Homo sapiens: one gene and its partners. The protein of the gene in region 3 purifies or fractionates together with the protein of the main gene of each other region. This does not show direct contact. Each region holds a gene or a part of one and is shown on either strand. Other genes may lie near its edges. The genes, in order: ZDHHC5, LZIC, CAST and PPME1.

Region 1 (5,579 bases), on a different chromosome or scaffold from region 3:
GCTGACGTACTGCTGCTACTGTAACCCGGCCGATACTTGTACATGGTAGGTGTCGGGGGGCTGTCCTTGGCCAATAAGCTACTATCTGCAAGAAAAAAGGCCAAGGGGGCACTATTTTACAAGCGGTTTTTTGGTTTAAGAGACAGGGTCTCACTCTACTGTCCAAGCTAGAGTGCAGTGGCACGATTATAGCTCACTGGAGCCTTGAACTCCTGGGCTCCCACCTCAGCCTCCTGAGTAGCTGGGACTGCAGGCATATGCCACCATGCCCAGCTAACTTTTTTAAATTTTTTGTAGAGACAGAGTCTTGCTATGTTGCCCAGGGTGGTCTTGAACTCCTGGGCTCAAGCAATCCTCCTGCGTTGGCCTCCCAAAGTGCTGGGATCACAGGTGTGAGCCACTGCGTCTAGTCTATGAGTTGTTCACTTTATCTGCCTAGGGTTCCTTAAGTACAGGGAGAGGACAAGGTAGGAATAGATATACCCTTCGCTGAAATCAAGACTTTTAAAGACTCACACCAGCCCAGAATTCAGGGTGGGTAAATGCACCAAAAAGGTTCTGTGATGTTCTCTGGTCTGCCTAGAGGCTGACCATTTTCCCGGCAAAAGTCCCATTCACTGCCAATAGCTAAATGGCCTCTCTTCTCTTTCAGTTGCAAAGTAGCACAAGTACCAACTGTTGGGTGTTTAAAGTCACAACACGAGTAATATCTCCCAGCCCTTGCCTGTCTTCCACAGCTCATAAGCAACCTTCTCAATCCTGCCCCTAGTTCTAGTATCTTGCAAATCAAGGCAGCCCTTACCCTCATTAGTAGCCAAGCCGAGGTGTGTTCGCAACCCTGTGTAACGGCTCAGGTCTGGCTTAGGAGGAGGTGGAGGTTCAGCATCTGCAGACTGGCTCTCTGTTATCTCCAGGCTTCCCTTAGACTGGATTGATGAAGGGAGGGAAAATCAGATTTAGAAATTGAGCATTATGGCAACTCAAAGTATTAAATTGATATAAGAGGGAGGTATTTGGGAGTCAATTCTCATGTATTTTTTTTTTTTTTTTGAGACAAGGTCTCACTCTGTTGACCAGGCTGGAGTACAGTGGTACGCATGATCATGTTCACTGCAGCCTGCAACTCCTAGGCTCAAGTGCTCTTCCCACCTCAGCCTCCCAAGTAGCTGGGATTACAGGCACATGCCACCACACCCAGTTAATTTATTTTACTTTATTTTGTAGAGATGGGGGTCTCGCCATGTTGCCCAAGCTGGTCTTGAACCCCTGGCCTCAAGCAATATCACCCCACCTTGGCCACCCTAAATGTTGGGATTATAGACATGAGCCACTGCCTATCATATATTTCTCAACTATACTGGAAGACAAGGCACAAGAATCAGTTTGGGTATAGCATTAGATGAAGAAAAGTTGGGTTTTTTTTTTTGAAATGGAGTCTTGCTCAGTCACCCAGGCTGGAGTGCAGTGGCGTGATCACGGCTCATTGCAACCTCTGGCTCGCAGGTTCAAGCGATTCTCATGCCTCAGCCTCCCAAGCAGCTAGGATTACAGGCATGTGCCACCACACCTGGCTAATTTTTTTTTGAGATGGAGTTTCGGTCTTGTTGCCCAGGCGGAGTGCAATGGCATGATCTCGGCTCACTGCAACCTCCGCCTCCCGGGTTCAAGCAATTCTCCTACCTCAGCCTCCCAAGTAGCTAGGACTACAGGCATGCGCCACCATGCCCAGCTAATTTTGTATTTTTAATAGAGACAGGGTGTCTCCATGTTGGTCAGGCTGGTCTCGAGCTCCCAACCTCAGGTGATCCACCCACCTCAGCCTCCCAAAGTGTTGGGATTACAGGCATAAGCCACTACGCCCAGCCAGAAAATTTTTCTATTTTTTATTTTAGTCTGTTTTAGAGATGGAGTCTCGCTATGTTGTCCAGGCTGGTCTTGAGCTCCTGAACTCAAGCGATCTTCCCACCTCAGCCTCGCTAAGTGCTGGGATTATAGGCATGAGTTACTGTACCTGGCAGAAGAAAGGGTTTAAAAAAGGTTTTAATTCTGTCACTTATTTGCCCATTTAAACCAACAACTACTTGTTTAGCTCCTACCATCTAGCTGTAAGCTGTTAAGTCCTATGAAGACATGGAAATGAATGAATTCATTTTCTATTGTTAATGAACTTAAAGTCTAATGTAGGGCCGGGTGCAGTGGCTCACACCTATAATCCTAGCATTTTGGGAGGCTGAGGGGGTTGGATCACTTCAGGTCAGGAGTTTGAGACCAGCCTAGCCAACATAGGAAAACCCTGCCTCTACTGAAAATAAAAAAATTAGCCAGGCGTGGTGGCGCATGCCTGTAGTCCCAGCTACCCAGGTGGCTGAGGCACGAGAATCGCTTGAACCTGGGAGGCAGAGGTTGCAGTGAGCTGAGATCATACCACTGGAGTCCAGCCTAGGTAACAGAGCAAGACTCCCTCTCAAAAAAAAAAATCTAATGTAGAAAACAAGATTTGTATTTAAGTAATTTTAACCCAAATTAGTAAGTGATAAACACTGTAAGAAATATGGGCCAGGCGTGGTGGCTCATGCTTGTAATCCTAGCACTTTGGGAGGCCGAGGTGGGCAGATCACCTGAGGTCAGAAGTTCGAGACCAGCCTGGCCAACATGGCAAAACCCCATCTCTACTAAAAATACAAAAATTAGCCAGGCAAGGTGACGGACACCTGTAATCCCAGCTACTCGGGAGGCTGAGGCAGGAGAATTGCTTGAACCTGGGAGGCAGAGTTTGCACTGAGCACCACTGCACTCCAGCCTGGGCAACAGAGCAAGACTCTGTCTCAAAAAAAAAAAAAAAAACACAAAGGAAACTAAAGCAAGCTTCCGTCTCTTTGCCTTGGGTGAGACTTCCATGTTATCTAGCTTGACTTCTCTAAATTCCTCACCTTTGTTCTCCTCAGCTCTCCCTGGATGCCATTATCCATGATCTTCACAGTTATCTGCCCATCTGAAACTTCTGGTCGAAGGAAGGGAGGTCTGATTACAATTGTCTTCTCTTTCTTTGGTCTCCCCAAATACCTAAGTGTCGAGAGAGAGAGAGAGAGAGACACAGCGAGAGAGCTTTCATTCATTTATATTTTAAAGTATCTACTGTTTCTGTAAACCATTTTTATTAGGTTGGTAAAAAAGTAATTGCAGTTTTGGCCATCACTTACTTAGCAATAAACAGAATTGATTCTGTGAAGGACTGCAGCAGGACTAGGCCTTTGTGAGCAGATACCTAGCTCAAGGAAAGCACTTTAGAGTGTATCTTATTCACCCTCAATTCTCAAAGATTTACCTTAATACCTGAAGAATATCAATGGAATTCACAGTGTCCACTAAAGCAGGGGTCCCCAACCCCTGGGCCGCAGACCAGTACCGGTTCATGGCCTGTTAGGAACTGGGCCACATAGCAGGAGGTAAGCAGTGGGCCAGTGAGCATTATCACCTGAGCTCCATCTCCTGTCAGATCAGCGGAGGCATTAGATTCTCTTAGGAGCGCAAACCCTAGAACCCTGTTGTAAACTACACATGCAAGCAATCTAGGTTGTATGTGTGCTCTGAGCTCACTGCAACCTCTGCCTCCTGGGTTCAGGCAATTATCCTGCCTCAGCCTCCCAAGTAGCTGGGATTACAGGTGCCTGCCACCTTGCCCAGCTAATTTTTGTATTTTGAGTAGAGAAGGGGTTTCACCATATTGGCCAGGCTGGACTTGAACTTCTGACCTCAAGTGATTCGCCCACCTCGGCCTCCCAAAGTGCTGGGTGTGAGCCGCCACACCCAGCCATGAGAATCTAATGCCTCATGATCTGAGGTGGAACAGTTTCATCCTGAAACCACCCCACCCCAGCCCCCATCTGTGGAAAAAGTGTCTCCCATGAAACCGGTCCCTGCTGCCAAAAAGGTTAGGGACCACTGCACTAAAGGATGGGCATGTAGGTACTTACCATTCTAAGATAGACTACTTACCATTCTAAGATAGAGTGGGTACTTAACATTCTAAGATAGAGAACCCTTCCTAAAGGCTCTCACCAGACCCCTCCTTTACCAGAACAAGCCCAAAGAAGATAAAAGTTCTGACCAATGGTAAACACTAGACCAGAGGGATAGGTGTACCTGGGTGCTGGAGAACTGCAGAGAACACGGCTGACATTGTTACAGCAGCCATTGGTGAAGGGGTTCACACCTCCCCGGAATTTACCCGTAACCTAGAGGGAGAAAAAAAATACCAGGTTAGAAGATGAGACCTTGACTTCCAAAGGCCAAAATACAAATCTATTACAAGTTATTGTGCACTCACTATCTGAGGGCTATGCAAATGAGTAAAACACAAGAAATTTATATATGTTATGGTTAAGAGCAGGGAATCTACAGTCAGGGTCCTTAGTTCAAATCCTAGGTCTACCTCATGGTTGCTGACCCAAAACCTCAGTTTCCTCATGTAAAATGGGATAGCTTTCTAAATATTGAAAACTAAGATAAAGAATAAGCAATTAAGGGCTGGGCATGGCAGCTCACACCTGTAATCCCAGCACTTTGGGAGGCTGAGGCAGGTGGATCACCTGAGGTCCGGAATTTGAGACCAAACTGGCCAACATGGCAAAACCCCATCTCTACTATAAAAATATATAAAAACTAGCCGGGCATGGTGTCAGGCACCTGCAATCCCAGCTACTTGGGTAGCTGAGGCAGGAGAATTGCTTGAAGCCAGGAGGCAAAGGTTGCAGTGAGCCGAGATCGTGCCACTGCGCCCCAGCCAGTGGGCTCCAGCCAGTGGGCTCCAGCCTGGGTGACAAAGCGATACTCTGTCTCAAAAAAGAAAAAAAAAAAGCAATTAAGGTTAGCTACTATTATATGCACAAAAATCATTGCTTTCCTGTAAGCAGCACTATAAGCTTCTTGAGGGCTAGCCTAAGTCTTTCATTGTTTCTATAAACTCAGAGCCTAAATTCTCCAGTATCCAGTGGGCATATAGTAAATGTCTGTTAACTAAGAAGTGGCCTCTATTCTTTTTTTTTTTTAGGAAGATCTTAAATATTTATATGTATATGAACATATATGTACATATACATATGTCTTGCTACACTTTAAATTTAAAAATCTATTAATATGATTTTTGACAAACTAAAGAAAGAATACTATTATTTGGATACCAAGTTCTATGGTGAGTATTGTTTAAAAAACTATCATCTTATTCTTTATGCTATATTGTCTAGTTTCAGTTTGGTTTGGGTCTCTCAATTGATATTTCAGGTGATGATGCCAAACCATCCAAGACTTTCTTTGGAGATAGATATTATTTTGTTATAAAATATATTTTTAGGCTGGGCGCAGTGGCTCATGCCTGTAATCCCTGCACTTTGGGAGGCCGAGGTGGGCGGATCACGAGGTCAAGAGATCGAGACCATCCTGGCTAACATGGTGAAACCCCGTGTCTACTAAAATTACAATAAATAAATAAATAAATAAAAGATATTTTAGCACTTTGGGAGGCTGAGGTGGGTGGATCACCTGAGGTCGGGAGTTCGAGACCAGCCTGGCCAACATGGTGA
Region 2 (5,579 bases), on a different chromosome or scaffold from region 3:
CTTTGCTTAAAGTCGCATCAGAGAGCTGAGGGTAAGACTCAGGTGTCCTGACTCCCAGTTTAGTATCTTTTGAATTTTATTTCTGTACCATTTAAAAAAAATAATTAACACTATTTGTGCAAGTCAGTGTTTTTGAAAATTCAGTGTCCCAATAAAAAGTGGACTGCACACTAAGGGACCATCCCCCAGCCTGTAAGCTGTCTGTATTAATGGGGCCCGTTGTATCTCGGAATTTTGAGGTTGGAACAATGGGAGCCCTGTTGAGCGTTTCCTAAAGTGACTTAGCCGCCTGCGTTGTTTGACCAGGGAAGCAACAGGAAATGGCAGCTAGAGGCCCTCCCTGTGCGTGACCTCTTGTCACACTCAGAGGGGGGTAACTGTCAGCTGTTATCTACTCTTCAGGTTTTGGAGAAACACAAAATAAGTTATGAGGAAAAGCAAATTTCTCTCCTGAGTATTTACATGTCTCTGTATGCTCAAATATGCAGATGTGTCCCTATGCGTGTATATTAGCTTATTTTTTAGGCTCTAGCCATTTTATATTCTTTCATGTGCTTCTCAATATTCTTTTTCTTTGCACTTTATACAAATTAAAAGCATTTTTAAAGCTTCTTCTGTACTGTAAACTACTAGGTGCTTTGCCAACCAGACAGATTAGAGGACCTCCGCTACACTGATGCCTTATTTGGAACTTAAAAGAGGTGAAATTCATATATCATAAAATTCACCATTTTAAAGTGTACCATTCGTTGGCAGAACATTTACAGTGGTGTGCAACCATCACTACTCTCTAGTTGCAGAACATTCTTATCACCCCCAAAGGAGGCCCTATACCTATTAAGCAGTTAGTCCCCATTCCCTTCTCCTCCGACTGCTAACAATAGCCACTAATCTGCACCCTGTCTCTGTGGATTTACCTATTCTGGATATTTCATATAAATGGAATCATATGATATGTGACCTTTTTATGTATCTGGCTTCTTTCACTTAGCATAATATTTTCTTTTCTTTTTTTTTTTTTTTTTGAGACAGAGTTTTACTCTTATTGCCCAGGCTGGAGTGCAATGGCGCAATCTCAACCTCCGCCTCCCAGGTTCAAGAGATTCTCCTGCCTCAGCTTCCCAAGTAGCTGGGATTACTAGTGTGTACCACCACGCCCAGCTAATTTTTGTACCTTTAGTATAGAGACAGGGTTTCACCATGTTGGCCCAGCTGGTCCTGAGCTGACCTCAGGTGATCCAACTGCCTCGGCCTCCCAAAGTGCTGGGATTATAGGTGTGAGCTACCACACCGGGACATCATCATATTTTCAAGTTTAACCAACATTATAGCATGTATCAGTACTTTATTCCTTTTTATGGCTAAATAATATTCCATTGTATGGATATCATATTTTGTTTATCCGGTATCTGTTGATGATTTGGGTTGTTTCCTTCTTTTGGCTATTGTGAATAATGCTTCAGTGAACATTTGTGTACAAATATTTGTTTGAATACCTGTTTTCAATTTTTTTGGGTGTACACCTAGGAATGGAATTGCTGCGTTTGTTGTTGTGTTGTTGTTGTTGTCGTTGTTTTTTGAGATGGAGTTTCACTCTGTTGCCCAGGCTGGAGTGCAATGGCGTGATCTCGGCTCACCACAACTTCTGCCTCCCAGGTTCAAGCGATTCTCCTGCCTCAGCCTCCCGAGTAGCTGGGATTAAGGCATGCGCCACCACACCTGGCTAATTTTGTGTTTTTAGTAGAGATGGGGTTTCTCCATGTTGGTCAGGCTGGTCTCGAACTCCTGACCTTAGGTGATCCACCCGCCTCAACCTCCCAGAGTGCTGGGATGATTACAGGCATGAGCCACCATACCCGGCCTGAGCCACCACACCCAGCCTACGTTTGTTTTTTAAGCCATAGAAGATTCTTCCCACCAGTCGGGCACAGTGGCTCACACCTGTAATCCCAGCACTTCAGGAGGCCAAGGCGGGCGGATCACAAGATCAGGAGCTCAAGACCAGCCTGGCCAACACAGTGAAACTCCATCTCTACAAAAATTAGCCAGGCATAGTGGCAGGTGCCTGTAGTCTCAGCTACTTGGGAGACTGAGGCAGGAGAATCACTTGAACCTGGGAGGCAGAGGTTTCGGTGAGCCGAGATGGCGCCACTGCACTCCAGCCTGGGCGACAGACTGAGACACGGTCTCAAAAAAAAAAAAAAAAAAAAAAAGAGGAAGAAGATTCTTCCCTTACCCTGCAATAGTAGACCAGAAAAATTAGGAATATCTTGAATTTGAAAGGGACCTAATGCCTGGCACAGTGGCTCACGCATGTAATCTCAGAACTCTGGGAGGCAGAGGTGGGCGGATCGCCTGAACTCAGGATTTGAGACCAGCCTGGCCAACATGGTGAAACCCTGTCTCTAAAAAAAAAAAAAAAATTAGCCAGGCGTGATGGCATGCACTTGTGGTCCCAGCTACTCAGGAAGCTGAGGTCAGAGGATCACCTGAACCTGGGAAGCAGAGGTTGCAGTGAACTGAGATCACGCCACTGTACTGGCTGACAAAGTGAGACCCCTGTCTAAAAAAAAGATAAAGAGAGTTACCTGAATCTGGAATCCTTAATCTTGGTTTTCCTTAAACTTTCTATAAGTCCAGCATCTGAAATATTTTGTCAATTATCACATTAATGTGTTCATTTTGTAAGTAAGAGTACTCAATTTAAAATGATCTTACTTTAAAAGTGGCCTAGTTTGCAGTGCCCAGCAGGACACTGACAGTCACAGCTGTGTGACTTTTTGTGGGTTACTTAATTTTTTTGAGCCTCCTTTTCTCTTCTATTCAATGAGGATAATAGGGCCTACCTCATAGGATTATTATGCATTCCCCTCTGTTAATGCACGTAAAGTTTTTACTTGGAAAACTAACTCACCATTTAACAACCATTCTAAGCACCATAGGATATATTTTGTTTCACAAATTTGGTATTCATTCAGAATAAGTATTTGAAAAGTGAGTAAATTCTATGCAATTATAGTTATTAAATGACTTATAAACTGTGTTTCTCTTCCACTTCTTGCTACATTTAATCTTCTAGGTGTTCAGATATCTTTGGAGATTATAGGCAGCAATAAAGCTAAGGCAGCTAACCTTTCAACATTCTTGTGTCAGGCTAATATTTTGGTGAAAGGAATTCTTGTGTTTCTCAAAGAACTAGAGCTGAAGCAGAAATAAGTTCCAATGAGCAAGTGTCCAATCGGACCATTGAATGAAATCTAGTGTTTTAAACAATTCTGATGTTTCAATGTTTTGTTCTGTTTTCTTTTGATCTTGTGAGCAGTAAGACATATTTTATGTGGGTGGTAAAGGAAGAAATCAAGTAACAGAATGAGGAATTGTTCCCAGGAAGAGTTAGAGTTGGGACAAATGGGTTGTTAACTTTGATTTTTAGATCTTCTCTGAAGACATTAAACATGGAATGGTCATCTTTAGAAAAATAAAAGACTATGCAACTCCACCACTGAAATGGTATCTTATTACAGTGAATGATGGATAATCTGAAATTACTATAGAAAAAAATAAACCCAGACCATTTTGCCTAGAGCCTTTCAACCACCTTTCTGTCCACGTTTTTCTTTTTTATTCTATTTATTGCTAAGACCAGTGAATGTTCTTCTTTGCCTTCCAAAATGTTTTCCAGCATTAGTATGTAAATTAAAACTGTCGGCAGGGCGCCGTGGCTCACACCTGTAATCCCAGCACTTTGGGAGGCGGAGGCGGGCAGATCATAAGATCGAGACCATCCTGGCTAACATGGTGAAACCTTGTCTCTACTGAAAATACAAAAAATTAGCTGGGCGTGGTGGCGGGCGCCTGTAGTCCCAGCTACTCAGGAGGCTGAGGCAGGAGAATGGCGTGAACCCGGGAGGCGGAGCTTGCAGTGAGCCGAGATTGCACAACTGCACTCCAGCCTGGGCAACAGAGCAAGACTCCATCTCAAAAAAAAAAAAAAAAAAAAAAAAAGGCATGAGTGGTGGCTCATGCCTGTAATCCCAGCACTTTGGTAGGCCAAGGTGGGCAGATCACAAGGTCAGGAGTTCAAGACCAGCCTGGCCAATATGGTGAAACCCTGTCTCTACTAAAGATACAAAAGTTATCCAGGTGTGGTGGCGTGTGCCTGTAATCCCAGCTACTCAGGAGGCTGAGGCAGGAGAATCACTTGAACCTGGGAGGCAGAGGTTGTAGTGAGCCAAGATCTTGTCACTGCATTCCAGCCTGGGCGACAGAGGAGACTCTGTCTCAAAAAAAAAGAGTTCACAATGGAAAGTCGATACTGTTGAAGAGCTTCAGCAAAGTTGAGAGGTCTGAGGCTGTCAACTGGAAGCTTCCTAAATGCTTGGTTATTTTTCTACCAGAAAATCACACTGCTTATTGCTTACAGCCTCAGGCAGTTGAATACAATTAAAAATAAACCAGCAAAAATATCATTTATTATAAAAGAAGTCAAGGAGAGCCATCAAGTTTTTCTGTGTGTTTGTTTTTTAGAGTGAAGATAATGCTGGTAAGGGTTTTTTGTTTGTTTGCTTGTTTGTTTTTGAGACGGAGTTTCGTTCTTGTTGCCCAGGCTGGAGTGCAATGGCCCGATCTCGGCTTGCCGCAGGGTTCAAGCAATTCTCCTGCCTCAGCCTCCTGAGTAGCTGGGATTACAGGCATGCGCCACCATGTCCAGCTAATTTTTTTTTTTTTTTTTTTGTATTTTTAGTAGAGATGGGGTTTCTGCATGTTGGCCAGGCTGGTCTCAAAGTCCCGACCTCAGGTGATCTGCCCACCTCGGCCTCCCAAAGTGCTGGGGTTACAGGCGTGAGCCACTGCGCCCGGTGGTAAGGGTTATTTCTAAGATGATACATCAGCCACAGATCCTCTGCCTCAGCCTCTGGCGACTGTAACTGAATTTTGAAGCCCCCCCTGCAAAACCTCCTGCTGAGCTGTGTTACAGTTATGACTTGGTTTGAGAGTTTCTGCTACCTTGTCTATTTCCTGTAAAACATCGTAGCAGGTCAGGTACTGTTTTTTGGTCACTACTAAATTGTCATATTACACGAGGCTATTCTTTACTACTAAAGGAGCTTAATTTTGTTGTTGTTGTTTTTTCCCCAACATTATTCCTTCAATACTCATTAACCAGGCCAGATTGAAAACAGAGCCAGCCTGAGCAATGTGGCGGAATGCCATCTCTACAAAAAAACACAAAAATTAGGCCGGGCACGGTGGTTCACGCCTATAATCCCAGTACTTTGGGAGGTGGAGGTGGGCGGATCACAAGGTCAGGAGATGGAGACTATCCTGGCTAACACGGTGAAACCCCATCTCTAGTAAAAATACAAAAAATTAGCTGGGCATGGTGGCATGCGCCTGTAGTCCCAGCTATTTGGGAGGCTGAGGCAGGAGAATCGCTTGAACCCGGGAGGCGGAGGTTGCAGTGAGCTGAGATCGCGCCACTGCACTCCAGCCTGGGTGACAGAGCAAGACTCCGTCTCAAAAAAATAAATAAATAAATAAAATAAAATAATATGGATATTGGATAGAGCCTTTTTTTT
Region 3 (4,483 bases):
GGGGGAGGTTAACAAGATGTGGTGCCATTTATAAGCAGTGTTATTGTTTTTGCTTGCCCCGCTGCCACAAGTCAGCTAAGTCATAACAAAAGCTTCAAACTGATGCTAAGGAAGGCCATGCCCTTTGGAAACAATAAATTCCCAATCTGTTTTATGTTATGTACCTGACATCTTTTCCTGCATTCTCTACCAGGAAATAAAGATGAAATTAAATATCAAAATTCTAATCGATGATATCAGTGCAATGTTCAGGAACTATTCATTAAGATATTAGAAAACCATTCAAAGTGGTAGGACATCAGAGCCTACTTCTTACATTGCTGTGGGAGAAATGCAGGTTTCAAATTTAATATATATATATAATTTTTTTAAAAGCAGAAGTTTCTTTTTATATTTGGTAAACTTAAGTTCCATAAAGCCAGACGCTATACAGTGCAAAGGCTAATGTGGCAATAGCTCTAAAGACACAGTTGCTGCTCAGGTTTTATGTATAGATAATAGAAAGCACAGTTTACTAACACAGTAAACCAACAGAGTTCAAGTCAGATGAGTACCCTAAGAATTAATTAGATTTTATTTCTTATGCTCGAAATTTGCTACACAAGGACTTATCTAACCTTTATTTTGCTCTGTTGCTGACTTGATTCAAGTCTCAGTGTGTTCTGTGCTGACTGTAAGATGCAGAAGTCCTCACACCTGGCAAAGAAGAGTTCAAACTGAAAAGGGGTTTGGTGCTTCCTGGTTTGTCCAGGTTACCTGTTATTAATTTATTATTAGCAGCCCAAGAGGAGATATGTGCCCAATGTACAATATCTTATGTTTGACTTATAAACATTATCCCAAAGCAACATCAAATACAGTTCAAAAGCCCAAGAGGAAAGGGGGTAATAAGAAATCAGAACACTGAAGAATGTTTAAAACATTGTTTTCTAAACACTAACAAAAAAAATTAAGGGCAAACTGAAAATACAAATGAGATTTACAGGCACTGTGTGTAGAATGTGCAAAAATTCACTTAGCTTTTCTTTTGTTTTTTTGGTGTTGCTTTAAGAAACTTTATCAAATATATTTCTTACAAATATAAAGCTTTCTCTCCCAATTGAAGGCAATTAAAAAAATTCAAAGTTTATCAATACTCAGTACACAGGTGAACCAGTCAAATTCATTTTCTTTCTGGAAAAGAATAACAAACCAATATTTAGGATGTTCAGAGACTCAACAAAAACCATTCTAGAAATCACCCAGAACAATTGTTTTCTGTTGCCAAAGCCTTTTGTTCTTCAAAAGTCACCATCCACCAGCTGAAGATTTTACATGCAGATACCTTAAAAATTTCAAATAAAAAATGCAGTGAATCATTTAATATGTAATTTTCTTGTTACAGACATAGTAAATATACCACTTAGCAAAAGCATTGTATAACAGACAGAAGGAATTTCCTATAAGTAAACATGAAAGTGGATTAATAGAATTTTTTTTAATTTTGGGAAAAATGTTAGAGCAGTTCTACCTAATATAGCTCCTTTTTTCCTAGGAAATAAACATGGATCATGGTGAGAGAGCTGAACCCGATTTAACCTATACTTTGATTTCTTTTAGGCTTTGGTCAGTAAGTGCTTGTATGCTTTTAAGGCTTACATTAAGCCCTCTCCTTTCTGAAGATTAAGATAAGGGCCCAGTTCTGAAGATCTCAGAAATCCCTTCAATCTGTCCAGTTTCTTCAGCAATTATAAATTAGAATCAAACACAGTACTTTACTTTCCAAAATAATGACAAATAAAAATGGCCAATCTTTTCCTTTGCCCTTGTTCCCAAAACCCTGTAATTTCCACCAGACTCTAAAGGGTACTTCTCCCCACCCCACCATGTATTGGTATTCTGGGGAATGCCAATGTCTTCAGGACATTTCGCTAAGTTGTAACATGCTAATTTTGCTTTGCCACAATAACCTGCAGTAATGAGCATTTGGATTTCAAAGATTCAACTAGCCTCAGATGGTCATTCTAAGTGCCTGGCCTAATATTTTTAAAAGCTTTTAATTATAAGATTAAGGTTTTTAAACATTTCAATAGCAAACTCATCCCATTTAGTGCTTTCAGAGAATGACCAATTACTCTGTAGATCTTGCAGTATGCATTTCATGCCAATACTGTAAAGTGAGCATGAATTACTCAAGAGGTGGACTTCACTTCTCTCATCTATAACACATAAATTGGCAGAAGATACAGTTGTCTTCATTTACAAATAAACACCCAACTTACCAGATACCTTAACTTGTATTTCTTTAGTCATCTTTTGGCTTGGAAGTTTCCTCTGTTGTCTAAAAGGGAAAGCAAAACCATCCGTGAGCTTTCTTTTCTGTATTAAGTATGAGGAGATGGCCTTCTCAGAATTAGGGGACAAAAGATGGCAGTCAGTGGGGAAAAATAAGATGGTCCTTTCAGTTTCTCTTCTTCATCTGGCCACAATATTGTGAGTTCTTCCTCCTCAAGCTTATAAGCTAAAAATAACCTTAAGTGATCCTGATCCTAAATGTATCACTCTCAGCTTTATTTTTTTAAGGCTAGGGTAGGTTATAAAATATGCATAGGTGTTCTTAAATGGCAATGTTTCATTCTGTGGTGATCCTTCCTTTCCTGTACATAGGGTCATGGCTGTCCAGTAAATCCACTCATCATAAAGGGTTATTATGCTTTCTATTATTTGTTAAAGGGCTGATTAAGTACTTCGTATAACTGAAATTAAATAATAGGCAAATAAGTATTTAAACTGAGATATAATGGCATAACTGCCAATTATCAATGCTGTTTCCTATATCCCTTAAGGGAATCTACTACAGGAAGATTTTAATATATTGTTTTAAAAGCTTTGGTGTAACTGGACTATTGTCTTTAAAGCTACACCTTTAACTCCTCCTTATAGCCAGGGGATCATAGTAATAATCATTTAAATCATATGTTCTTGGAATTGGAAGGGACCTAGAAGTTGTCTAATCCAATTTTCATTTCTCATCACAGCTTGAGTAATTTTAATAATAGGAAGTTTCCAACTTCCATGTTCTAAAATCTATATAAACCACATACTATGGTGGTATTTTAATTAGGGCAAGAAAGACAGGCAAAACACAGGCAAATTGGGTTGTGTCAAGAACATTCATTTAGGATTTTAAAGCACCAGTTACTTAAAAATATATGTATTTATACAAATTCAATTACTTTACCAAGCGATGCTATGGGATAGATAGTACTTTAAGAAATTTTATTCTAAATAGATTCCAGTAGGAAACTAAATGACTGAAATGATAAACCCTACTCTGTGTAACTGCTAAACTAATTTGTAGTATATTTACTGCTCCATTTACCTTTGCTGAATCCTTCGCTTTACCTCCATTCTTAGGTGCTTTGGAGCTGGAAGCAGCCTTCTTGCACTTATCCTAAAGCAAAGGAAATGTAATGAGGCTATGGCTATCACCAATCCATCTAGCAATTAACTAGGCTGCAGTTAAATTAATCCAGACCATTCTGAGATCTCCAATTTAATTAAATAATGGAAGACTTTGGGTGTTTTTTCATGATTTTTTTTGAACAACGGTGTCAGAGAATTGTTTAAAGCAGGAGGGAAAAAGGATAGAAATAAGGAGGGAAATGTGGGTGACATTGATGCTCTAATTCCCGTGGTGCCTGACTCACCCAGACCTTATTTTGCTAATCAAAACAGAGCTTGTCAATAGATAATAAATGTCGGCAAGGGTGTGGAGAAAAGGGAACCCTAGTACACTGTCAGTGGGGATGTAGATTGGTATGGGCTATGATGGAAAACAGTATATAGGTTCCTAAAGAAATTAAAAGTAGAACTACTGTATGACCCAGTAATCCCTCTTCTGGGTATATACCCAAAGGAGATGAAATTATCACCTTATAAAGATATCTGCACTCCCATATTCACTGCAACATTACTCACAATAGCCAAGATATGGAACAACCTAGTTGTTGATGAATGGATAAAGAAAATGTCATGTATATATACATAATGGAATATTATTCAGCCTTAAAAAACGATATCCTACTATTTGTCACAACATGGATGGACCTGGAAGACCTTATACTAGATGATATAAGCCAGACACAGAAAGAAAAGTGATTTCACTTATATGTAGAATATATATAAAAGAAAAAGCTCAAAAACACAGAGAATAAAACATGGCGACCATGGTAGGGAACAGGAGGAGGAAACAGAGATATAGGTCAAAGGATACAAAATAGCAGATATGCAGAATGAACAAGTGTAGAGAGTTAATGTATAACATGAGGACTAAGGTTAATAAAATTGTATTAGGGATTTTGTTAACTAAGTAGATTTTAGCTGCTTTTGTCACAAAAAGTAGTTGTGTGAGAATGATAGATATGTAAATCTGCTTCCCTACAGTAACCATTTTATTATTTCTATGCATCCCAAACTACCATGTTGTAAACCTCAAATATAC
Region 4 (5,579 bases), on a different chromosome or scaffold from region 3:
TGGTGGCACACACCTGTAAACCCAGCTACTCGGGTGGCTGAGGCAGAAGGGTTGCTTGGACCTGTGAGGCAGAGGTTGCAGTGAACCGAGATCATGCCACTGCACTCCAGCCTGGGTGACAGAGTGAGAACTCTGTCTCAAAAAAAAAAAGACATTATCAATTTAAATGTAAAAAAGAAATGTATCTTAGAATTGAGGAAATACAGTAAGTTTCCATTAGACAGTTTTCCAATTTAAATAATATTTCTACACATAAATCATCTCATTTTCTCCTCAAAAATTCTATGAGGCTAGCATTATTATCTACATTTAAAAAAAAATAAAGTCAAGTTTGCACCAGTTAAGCGGTAAGTAGTAAAGCCAGGAAGAGAATCCTAGTTTGTTGATTTTAAAACCTACCTTCCTTCTACTACAAGACAGTAGAAGTATAGAACTAACTGGGTTGGCAAACTACAGCCTACGGGAAATCCAGCCCACCACCTATTTTTGCATGGCCCAGGATCAGAGAATGATCTTTACATTTTTAAAAGGTGGAGGGCAGGGGGAGAAGAGAGACTAATGACATGTGGAAATTATGTGGAATTCAAATTTCAGTGTCCATAAAGTGTTGTTAGAACACAGACACATTCAGTTACATATTGTCTGTGGCTACTTTCACTCTAAAACAGCAGAGCTGAGTAGCTGCAACAGAGACTAACATGGCCCACAAAGCCTAAAATACTATCTGGCTTTTAACAGAAAATGTTTGCTGATTCCTGGTAAAATGACAGGTGCCACCAAAGGACAGAAAATAGAAAAATCGGTGCAAGCTGGACTGATCAGAAAAAGCCTCAGAACTTTATTTTAAATGAATTTGTGCTATGTGTCCATTAAATTAAATTTTACAAAAACATTTAACTGTGTTACAGTAGAAAGCACAAAGAAACAAAGGTCCTTGCACTACAGGAGTTCTAAATGTTATTGAGGAAACACACAAAAATCTGCATAAAATTATCTTCGATAAGTCTGACACAGTAACAGTGAAAAAGTACAATACCAATGCAAACAATTGATGAGTGGAGATGCCAAAATTGTTATAGGTGCTCAGAGAAGAGAGAGCAAATGAATGAACTAAAGTAGTCTGAAAGTGCTTCATGAGTTTTAAAGATGGATAGGAGTTGAAAAAGTGGGCCGGGCGCGGTGGCTCACGCCTGTAATCCCAGCACTTTGGGAGGCCGAGGCGGGTGGATCATGAGGTCAGGAGATCGAGACCATCCTGGCTAACAAGGTGAAACCCCGTCTCTACTAAAAATACAAAAAAAAAATTAGCCGGGCGCGGTGGCAGGCGCCTGTAGTCCCAGCTACTCGGGAGGCTGAGGCAGGAGAATGGCGTGAACCCGGGAAGCGGAGCTTGCAGTGAGCCGAGATTGCGCCACTGCAGTCCGCAGTCCGACCTGGGCGACAAAGCGAGACTCCGTCTCAAAAAAAAAAAAAAAAAAAAAAAAAGTGAAGAAAATGGAAGGCATTGCCAACAAAATAAACTTGGCAATTGTTAAGTGCAAGAAACACTTAGGAAATTACCACTGCTTAGGACATGACTTTGGAGCGCTTTTAACACTAGCCTTTAATGGTGGACCACTTGCTCTGGTCCCTAAACTTGGTGAAGGTGCTTGGAAAATAGTCTTCGCTCTTAGAGAATAAGTGATAAATTGGGCAAGGGCAGAAAAATTGAATACTATAAAATAAGGCTAGTGTGAAAATAATTGCTAATTGACATTTGCTGTCTTATAATAGTGGACTTGCTTTCAGGTTTGGGGAATCAAAGAGGAAGACATAAATTGTCAAATTTTGATAAAATAAAAGTAACAAGCCTGAATCTGTACATATCATGAGACCTATTACAAGCCTATTACAAGACCTATTACAAGAGTTTCGACCATATAATTATTTTAAATCTCAAAGTAACATATTGTAAACACAATACATTTTACCTAAAAGCTGGTATTGAAATAGAGATTCTATTATTCTATGAAGTATAACCGCTTTTAGGAGAAAGGCAGTATAGCCCTAGTTATACCATCTTAAGGGAACTGATGGGGAAATAACGTTGTTCTTATAGAACGGGGTTAAATAGGCCAGGATTTGGGTTTCTCGTTCAGTTAGCACTAAAGGAGACAGCATTCTAAGCACCAGCAAAATTCAGACACAATTCCTACCCTTATGAACCTCAACAGTTTTGAGGAATACACAGTTGACCAATAATTACAATTCAGAGGACTAAGGAGAATAGAGAATGTTCTGCTTGTCTACAATGTGATATGCCTACTAGGAGATAATGACCAAAACCAACAAAATTATATGATCAAATCCTAAGGAAAGCCAGGAGGAAGGAGAGAAAGGGGAGAAAGGGAAGGAGGAAAAACCTTCCTTGCCTAGAGAACAATAACCAAGAAATGTAAGTTGTATGTTTTTACATGAATGTCTCAAATCTAAATAGGAATAACACATCAACATCTAGGCTGCTTAAGTCTGTTAAGAGAGTTATTGATGAGTCATGAATGGGCACAGTAGCAGTCTTAATCACTTGTTGTCACAAATTCTGTCAAAGTCTAGGAGTCTGGTAGTGGAGGCTAAATACTGAAGTTTAATTGCAGCCAGCTATTTAAATCAAGGCACCACTGTTTTTAAAATGTCCTTATTAGCAGTACTTTGAAGAGAATGAAAAGAAAGCAACCAGATGGCTGGCTGAGGGTTGTGGTAGGTCTGAAGTGTTCCTTACTCCAAGGCATGCCATTAAGCAGCAGACTTCAGGATTCTAAAAACTACATCATGAATCATGCTGTTAGAGATCATCTAACTCAAATCTTACTTTATGAAAGGAAACAACTAGGTGTTTATTACGTACCAAGCATGGTTTTGAACAGTACCATTAAAGTATTCTCATTTTAAGGTGACTCAGAAATACTAAATAACTTTCCCAGAGCCATTTTTGGTAGCACCGGAGCTTGGATTTGACTTTTTATTTTATAATTACTATTTTTAGAGATAGGGTCTCATTCTGTCTCCCAGGCTGGAGTGCAGTGGCACGATCACAGCACACTGCAACCTCAAACTCCCAGGCTCAAGTGATTCTCCCATCTCAGTCTCTCAAGTAGCTGGGACTAACAGGTGCGCACCACCATGCCTGGTTGTTTTGTTTTGTTTTAGTACAGACAAGTTTTTCCTATGTTGCCCAGGCTGGGGAGCTTGGATTTAAACAAGTACGTCAGGTGCCAAAGCGTTCTTTCTTTCCATGATAACGAGGCCCAGGAAGAGAAACTGACCAGAGTCATACAACTTGTTAGTGGCAGAGAGAGGATGTCTACTTAAACCTGGAAAAAGTCTATGGCCAAAAACACACACAGAAGCATATAGGAAAAGGACTGATAAGTAAACAACTTCGGTCTTCCGGTGTGGTTTGAAATGATTGGAATTTTCAATATAATCTCTTATTCAATCTTCAAAATATATTGGTAGAATATACCTGTAACTTGTAATCAATATTGTATTTGAAGAATATCTAAGTGTGGCCACCCTCTTAATAGAACTATTAATTAAAAGTTTCTTCTCTTAAAAAAAAAAAAACTATTTTGTAGTTTGAAGGAAACAGTCTTTCCCAAACAACTAGAGATGTTTTCTGAAATCTGACATCAAGTAGCATAACATGGAAGGCTCATTAGGTTTAAAATAAAACAAAAGAGCAAATTACCCAATTTTGGAGATACTAAGAAGAAATAGATTTGCTGGCAATAAGCAACAATGGAAAAACGGACTTTTACTCAGAAGTTCTGAAATGAATGTCAAGGGGCTGAAATCTGGCAATAAGGGGCAGGGGAGTTGGGGGTGGGATTATTACTTCCTATACTTACACTGCAATGAAAACAGTAGGGAAGTTGAAATCAGAAGATTAGGCTTCTCCACTTGTTAACCTCAGGATTTGGGCCAGATGCTGTTTATTCTCTATTCCAGACATTACCTGCCCACTTCCCACTCTCTCTTCCCTAACAGAATTGTAATACTTTTGTTTGAGCAGCTAGTGGAGATCTCTTGTTGTCTCTCCTCCAGTCCAAGGGAATGAATCAAAATTGGTCTAAACCAGTCATAGTTAATCCCATTCCCTACTGCCAGTGATTGGTTTTAGGATGGGTATGTGAACAGTTCTGGACAATAAGACTTAAGGGAAAAATCTGTTGGGGAGCTTGCATTTCTGGGAAAAAATTAAAAGACAAGCTTAGCTAGGAAAGGACTTTGGCCCCCGCTTCTTTTTATTTGTAAAGATAAGATAGAAGTAGAGTGGCAGCAGCCATCCTGCAACCATAAGGTGACAAGCAAGAGAAGGAAAAGCCACCATTCTAAGGATGGCAAAAGAAAGGATGCAAACAGCCTGGGTCCTGAATGAAATTGTTTAGCAACTGAATGAACCCTGGAACATCCTATCAATAATAAATGTCCTTGTAGTTTAAACTACAGTAAACTGATAACAGCAAATTAGATTGTTTCACATCAATATAATGTTGCTAATGTGAGTTTGGGGATTTTTGTAGACTTAATTGTATTTAAAGAGTAAATCTACTGAGTTTCACAATTATTTAAGAGTACTATTGAATTTAAGTAATATTAGATTGAATATAACTTAGGTCAATACTTGGAATCTGAAATATATTTCCTTCAAAAGGGATTCATACAAATTGAAAGATACCATATTTCTTCAAGGAACATTCAACATCATAAAAACGTTTATTCTAAATTAATGTTTGTATTTAATGTAATCCCAATAAAAATACTATCAGGATTTTTTTCTGGCACTAGTCTATGGGATTAGAAAGTTTATTTGTGAGAAAAAAACAAGAGGAACCACGAAAATCCTCAAAATGAATGAGGGGTAAACAACCTCTACCACCCATCAAAACATATTAATAAATCCTCTAATTAAAAGTACAGTAGTGGCACGTAAAAGAAACTCCACAGACCCGGATTTATATAGAAATTTGGCATATGACAAAGGTGTCATTTTAATCAGTGAGAAAGAAGACTTTTTTTTTTTTTTTTGAGACAAAGTCTCACTCTGTGTCCCAGGCTAGAGTGCAGGGGCATTATCTTGGCTCACTGCAACCTTTGCTTCCCGGACTCAAATGATCCTCCAGAGTAGCTGGGACTACAGGCACACACCACCACACCCAGCTAAATTTTTGTGATTTTTGTAGAGAAGAGGTTTCACCATGTTGTCCAGGCTGGTCTCCAACTCCCAAGCTCAAGTGGTCCACATGCCTTGGCCTCCCAAAGTGCTGGGATTACAGGCATGGACCACTGAGCCTGGCCAGGACTATTTCTTTATTGTAGTGAAATTTACGTAATGGGTAAAGGACTAAAAAATTTAATAAATGATGAAAACAACTAGATAGCCTTTGGATAAAAATAAAATGTCTTCTTTTCCTCACTTTGCATATCAAGATAAACTTCAAATGGATTAAAAAAAAATTGGCTCATGCCTGTAATCCCAGCACTTTGGAAGGCTGAGGTGGGTGGATTACCTGGGGCCAGGAGTTCAAGAGCAGCCTGGC

The links.
Region 1: the proteins of CAST (region 3) and ZDHHC5 purify together in Homo sapiens (co-immunoprecipitation; one large-scale study listed by IntAct). This does not show direct contact.
Region 2: the proteins of CAST (region 3) and LZIC fractionate together in Homo sapiens (co-fractionation; one large-scale study listed by BioGRID). This does not show direct contact.
Region 4: the proteins of CAST (region 3) and PPME1 fractionate together in Homo sapiens (co-fractionation; one large-scale study listed by BioGRID). This does not show direct contact.

What each region holds. Positions count from the first base shown.
Region 1 is NC_000011.10:57,691,267-57,696,845, reverse strand, and holds part of ZDHHC5 (palmitoyltransferase ZDHHC5), read right to left. Parts: intron 4,236-5,579; coding exon 4,144-4,235; intron 3,064-4,143; coding exon 2,931-3,063; intron 927-2,930; coding exon 803-926; intron 86-802; coding exon 1-85. UniProt on the Homo sapiens protein: Palmitoyltransferase that catalyzes the addition of palmitate onto various protein substrates such as CTNND2, CD36, GSDMD, NLRP3, NOD1, NOD2, STAT3 and S1PR1 thus plays a role in various biological processes including cell adhesion, inflammation, fatty acid uptake, bacterial sensing or cardiac functions.
Region 2 is NC_000001.11:9,924,313-9,929,891, reverse strand, and holds the end of LZIC (protein LZIC), read left to right. Parts: 3' UTR 1-3,599; downstream 3,600-5,579.
Region 3 is NC_000005.10:96,769,481-96,773,963, reverse strand, and holds part of CAST (calpastatin), read right to left. Parts: intron 3,434-4,483; coding exon 3,362-3,433; intron 2,321-3,361; coding exon 2,285-2,320; 3' UTR 2,262-2,284; intron 1,325-2,261; 3' UTR 1-1,324.
Region 4 is NC_000011.10:74,176,937-74,182,515, reverse strand, and holds part of PPME1 (protein phosphatase methylesterase 1), read right to left. Parts: intron 1-5,579. UniProt on the Homo sapiens protein: Demethylates proteins that have been reversibly carboxymethylated. Demethylates PPP2CB (in vitro) and PPP2CA. Binding to PPP2CA displaces the manganese ion and inactivates the enzyme.